Regions from separate parts of the Homo sapiens genome. Here region 1 is linked to region 2. Evidence: fine-mapped expression QTL. A gene starts in region 2. The other region holds a variant in brackets. All regions are shown on one strand. Distances are from middle to middle.

What was found. PIP is the estimated chance that this variant, and not a neighbour inherited with it, causes the effect.
Region 1: its variant is the best candidate, but not a certain one, in a credible set for the expression of QPCT in tibial artery (GTEx, PIP 0.67).

What each region holds. Positions count from the first base shown.
Region 1 is chr2:37,267,222-37,270,135 of GRCh38, reverse strand. PRKD3 (protein kinase D3) reads left to right here. Exons shown (of 19, transcript NM_005813.6): 13 at 449-521; 14 at 2,600-2,706. It also overlaps a transcript of NDUFAF7 not described here. Among named protein-coding and RNA genes, the nearest start is that of NDUFAF7, 37 kb to the right of the region's middle. The variant A/G (reference allele first, on the strand shown) is at 1,317.
Region 2 is chr2:37,342,808-37,345,721 of GRCh38, reverse strand. It overlaps QPCT (glutaminyl-peptide cyclotransferase), which reads right to left and starts at 1,092. Exons shown (of 7, transcript NM_012413.4): 1 at 871-1,092. The coding sequence starts at 990. It overlaps LOC124907754 (a long non-coding RNA gene), which reads left to right and starts at 667. Exons shown (of 2, transcript XR_007086284.1): 1 at 667-1,995. RefSeq lists a silencer at 662-721.

The DNA of each region.
Region 1 (2,914 bases), 76 kb after region 2:
CCTGCCTCAGCCTCCCGAGTAGCTAGGATTACAGGCATGCACCATCTCACCTGGCTAATCTTGTATTTTTAGTAGAGATGGGGTTTCTCCTTGTTGGTCAGGCTGGTCTGGAACACACAACCTCAGGTGATCCACCTGCCTCAGCCTCCCAAAGTGCTGGGATTACAGGCGTGAGCCACCACGCCAGGCCTAAATACAAGATTTTTAAAATGCAAAGCATTTTTTTCCTGAAAGTCTTGCACAATACATTATACTTGCACATAAAATTTGGGCTTAACCTCTTATTAGAACATAGAAAGCCTGTGTTTTCATAAAATAGTTTGCACTTTATGGAAATTAGCTGCTTCTAACATAAAAATGTATTGAAGTATTTGGATGAAGAAAGTCAGAGATGTTGACATTGTATTATAGAAATAAATAATACTAACTCCTTACTTTATCCTACCAGGATATCAGTACTGTTTACCAGATCTTTGCAGATGAGGTGCTTGGTTCAGGCCAGTTTGGCATCGTTTATGGAGGTAAGCAACTACAGCCGTTTGCATATTGTACACATTATTTTAAAAACTGGAAAATGTAAAACATCTGCCAGCTGTTTTGTCATCTCATAGTTTTGTCCAGTGCCTTTTTTTTAAAGGCTGACTTGTTATCTTTCAGCTAAATCCTTCTCACTGTAATTTGAGTATTCTTCCCTTAATGTCATTGCAAACTTTAAAAATTAACAGAATCAGAAAATTTTACAGTGTGTTTTATCTCTTCTTGTAGCTCACACATACAGATGTTTGTCGGAGGCAGGGGGGGAGATGGTTTGAAGTTTATGTTGGGCTGAGTGGGCTTATTCATTGAAGTATATTCCCTACTAGTTTTCCAACACAAATGGCACCATTTGTCTACTGTTGGCATGATTGTTCTATTAAGTCTGAAAACCTGAACCTGAAATCCAACTTTGCGATTTAGGATATTGATGAAGTCATTTAACCTTACTGTGCGTTAGCATCTTCAACTGTTTAATGGAACTAATAAAACCTGACCTGTGTAGCTCATAGGGCTTAAATATTAATTAAACTTAATATATGTAAAGGTACTAAGAAAGAAATGTTAAACCCTTGTTATCCCTTGCTAAGACTTGGTACAGTAGTTTCCTAGTTGGCTGTTCTGCCTCCATTCTTACCTTCTTTTCATACAACTCTTAGAGTCAATCTTTCAGAAAATTCACATCTGATATTAGTATTACCTCACATAGAACCCTTAAGTGGTTCACAGTCATCTACAGATTCATAGCCAGTTTTCTTAGCAGAGGATTTCAAGGCTGCTGT[A/G]ATTTATCCCTGCTTCTCTAGCCTCAGATCTAATTGCAGCTTCCTCTTTGCTTTCTATCTTTCAGTCCTGTTTACATGCCTCCATACCCTTTGCCTCTCTGCTCCTTCTCCATCCCTTTGTCTCTTCTAGTGCACATTTTTTCATACTTCAGGGCTCAACTAAAGGGCTTTCTCTGTGGAAATTTCTTGTCCCCGTACCTATTTCTCCATCAAATAAAAACATGGTTCCCCTTTGGTACTCCTGCTACCCAACATACTTCTCTCACAATATCTATTACCCTTTGGGTTTACATTATTGTCTTCCCACTGAACTTTATTGGAGCGTTGGCTGTGAGATGTCTGGATCTTCTTTGTATTCCTAGCACCTAGTATTGTGACATAAAGCAGTCGCCTAGAAAATGTGTTGACTCTGCATGCATATATAATATCTATGGTTTGCAACTTCAGATTTGTCAGTTTTAAGAGTAGTTACATCTCTGGAGGACTTCCTGTCATCAGAGGAACAAAGAACTGTCCGAGGTACCTTTGGCTTCTTACCAAAAATGCACACATTTGTTCAGTCTTTTCAAGTAGACTTACGATTGTGCCATTGAGACAAATGAGTTAATCTAAAATAAATAGCTATGTAGAGAAGAGCAAGTCAGATACATATTTGAAGAACAAATACCAAAAATATACCTGTCATTTTCACTGCTTAATCTGTAGCATCTAAAGGCATACCTAGTACATAATAGGTATAACTAGTTAATTTGAATTAATAAATGAGGGAATGACTGTTCATTATAATAAACTTCTACCTTTTTTTAATATCTAGATTCTAGAATATAGAGACAAATATAAATTTTTTATATCTAGATTCTAGAATATAGAGACACCCAGAGTTTGTGGGTACATGGTTAAATCACTCTGTGCTGACTCATTGAATCTAGAATAAAATTGATTCATTCATACAGTATTTCCATCTTGACAGAGTCTCTGAAGGACTAGGTCAGGGTAATTAACTATCATTGATTTAACAAGGTAGATTACTTTTCAGCAACAAGTTCATTCAAATTTTCTCCTGTTTAGATAATGCAGCTGACTTTATTAGGGGCAAATATTATGTATGGAGGGGAAAACAATTTTTTCCTAAATTAAAGGTGAGTGAAGGAGTGTGGAGAAAGAACAAAAATGAGCCAAAAAGAAAATTCAAGAGTAAATACATATAAATTTCAGTCTGTGGACAACTCCCTAATAAAGCTGTCAGTTTGCTTCATTCGTTCCTCTTCTTTTTTTCTTAATAGGAAAACATAGAAAGACTGGGAGGGATGTGGCTATTAAAGTAATTGATAAGATGAGATTCCCCACAAAACAAGAAAGTCAACTCCGTAATGAAGTGGCTATTTTACAGGTAAAAATAAAAAATAAAAAACTGGTTTATTAAAGAGGCTGGTAAGAATCTGAATTAACTGCTTCTCTTTTTTTTTTTTTTTTAAGAAGGCAAAATTAGATTATGGTAATATAGGCATTATAGGGACTGCCAATATCTTGCTTTATGGTAGTAGTTTTAGAACACATTTTCGTGAGTAAAATCTTTTTTAAAAAAGTAAAATTTCATT
Region 2 (2,914 bases):
TGGGATTACAGGTGCGTGCCACCACGCCCGGCTGATTTTTTGTATTTTTTAGTAGAGACAGGGTTTCACCATGTTAGCCCTGATGGTCTCGATCTCCTGACCTCGTGATCCACCCGCCTCGGCCTCCCAAAGTGCTGGGATTACAGGCGTGAGCCACCCCGCCCGGCCGAACCCATACACTTCTTACAGAGGGAACTTGCAAATCACTTTTATCCTAAGTTCCTTATATGCGATTTCTACCTACAACTAGATCCATTTTCTCTGAAAATAGCAGGTACCCTCTTTTAAGTGGAGGAAAAAGGCTTTTGAAGTAAGCAGGTCTCCAGTAAAGGTCCTTCCTGCCGAGTTGCTCCTTTTAAAAATCTAAAACAAACAACACACATCCGTCCTGAGACTGTAGGGACACTTCAGCGCCCCAGCAGCATCCTTGGATGAAGCAGCGGGGGGGCTGTGGGCACACCCCCAGGCGCACCCCGCACCCTAGCGGCCCCGGAGCGCCGGCCCCGTTGCCCTCCAGGGTCCCGAGTGGGGGGTGGCGCCGCGATGCGCCCTCGCCTCCCGGCTCAGCAGCCGCCGGCGAGACACATTTCCTGTGCCTATCAGCACCCCCATCAGACCGCAGCCCAGGAGAGGCCAGTGACATCACCCAGCCCCCCTGGCGTCTCCAGAACAGCCCCGGACTGGCCGAGGCACCCCGGCGAGTATGCAGAGCCCCGACTCCTCCGGGCGCCGGGTGGGGCGCCGGTGCCTGGGCTGGGGACCGTGGCCCTGCCCCGCCTCCCGCTCTGCCTAGGTAGGGCTGACCCGGCCAGGGGTCCTCGCATCGGACCAGAGCCGCTCAAGTACAACTACGCAGAAACAGCCCCTCACCTTCTCCTCTGGCCAGGCTGAGGCACTCGGACTGACCCCCCTGGATGCCCAGGGCAGGGCGGCCACCAGCAGCAGCAGGTGGAGGGTGCCCACGACGCGCCGGTGTCTTCCGCCTGCCATCTCTCCGAGTCTGTCTGGGAGCGGGTTCCCCGGGCCGCTGGCGGTCACGAGCCCGGGAACGCGCGTCCTTCGCCTTCCCTCTTCTCCACCCTTGGGTCGACTGCGCCCGCCTTCCCATCGCCCCCGGGTAGCCTCCCGCCGCGTCGCGCAGGCTGCAGCCCTCCTACCCCGGACCTTCGCAAACCCCGGGGCTGGGCGGCCCTGGGTGACAGACACAAGCTTCTGAACCCAAGCTAACAAAGGCGGCCACTTCCTTCTCTTGGAGAAGATGAAAGGAAGGAAGCAAGAGACATGGAAGAGCCTTTTTATGATCTCCAATGCCAAAACAGGGAACAGAAAAGGGAGGAAGGGTTCACCAGACCCTGGGGAGTTATGAAGTGTTTCCCACAGCTCCTAAAGAAGGGGTGGACAGGGAATCGACGTCTGCTGAACACGGCACCAGGCACCGTCCTAGGTGCTTGTCCAACCTTCCCGGATTTAATCCACTAATCCCATTTTACAGACGGGGAGACTGAGACACCCCCCCACCCCCCATAGAAAGCCTGGACTGGAACCCACAAGCAAAAGTATGACAGTGGATCTTTGCCTTTTCTCTTTTTTCTCACAAATAGTTGCCTTGCCTCACATCATACTCTCAAATTGAAAAGGATGGTCAAAGTAATTATCTGAAATAATGAGATCTACAATATTCACAGCGGCTCTGAAGGAGTCATCTTCTCCAAGGCATGGCCCCAAAAGGAAAAGCCAAACACAATTCTATTTACTTTGTAACATCAAAGGTCATTGTTATCCAGATAATCCTAGGGCAGGAAAACATTTCAGTTTTGTCTGTAGGTTTCTGGTCCAAGTTGTCAGGACAGTGACTTTCACCAGCCTCTTTTGCTTCCACAGTGAGGATCAGGGCTTGGCCTGCTCTGAGTCATCTCCCAGTAACATCTAGTTCCCAGAAAAATCAGAACAAGGATACTGAAGCAGAACCATTTCACAGAGAGCAAAGATTTGAAGGTAAGGAAGCTGCCAGAAGGCCCACCCACTCACTCTGTCTTCCCAGCCTTGGCTATGAGTTTTTAAAGAGAGGGCTTGCCTGGAAATACACTGTTCTGCCCTCCTCTGGAGCTGTAGGAGAAGACAGGATGTAAATAACTCCTTTCCTGGTGTACAGATTTGCTAACCCTATTCATGTCTGAGAGTTTTGAGTGACAATTTAAATCTCCAGGCTTAAATAAAATTAAATACACCTTTATTAAACCCACAGACAGTTCTGATCATCGGACCCCCTTCAGAACTTTCTACTGGCTCCAGTTTCAGAACTAAACCACTGTCACATTCCCCAATACAGCTCCTCTCTTGCTGCCTGGGTCAACCTTGAAATAGTGCATTTCCTGAGTGGCTGGGTAATAAAGAGCCTATTTGCTTTTTTTTACCCTATTACCTTTATGTCTTTTCACAATATGGTTCCTATAAGAAAGAGAACGTGGAAATAGCAAACCTAAATGAAACAAAATGTGAGAGGTACTATCATGCTAAGTATGAGCAATTCAAAACAAGAAATATAGAAATAAGCTAAAATGTCAGCACATAACGTAATGATGATTTTGTTTCCTAAGTTTCTCCAATTTTGGTTATATTTAAGTCAATAAGATGTTCTTACAGTTTGGTATCTACAGGAAGCAGACTCTGAGACAAGAGTTTAACATGCAGGATGTGTATTAGGGAGTGCCCTTGGGACAAACCCCTGTGGGAGGAAGAAGGGGAACAGGAGAGAACAGAGGGAGAAGTTAGCAGCAAAGCGGGCCCAACAACCTCACCCAACTCCATGGGAGTCCTGAAGCTGAAAAAGACGGTCAAAGTTGTCCCATACTGGGCCAAAATGTCTGGGGCCTTATCTCTGCACCTCCATGGAGTGATTTCCTGCAAGCGGCTT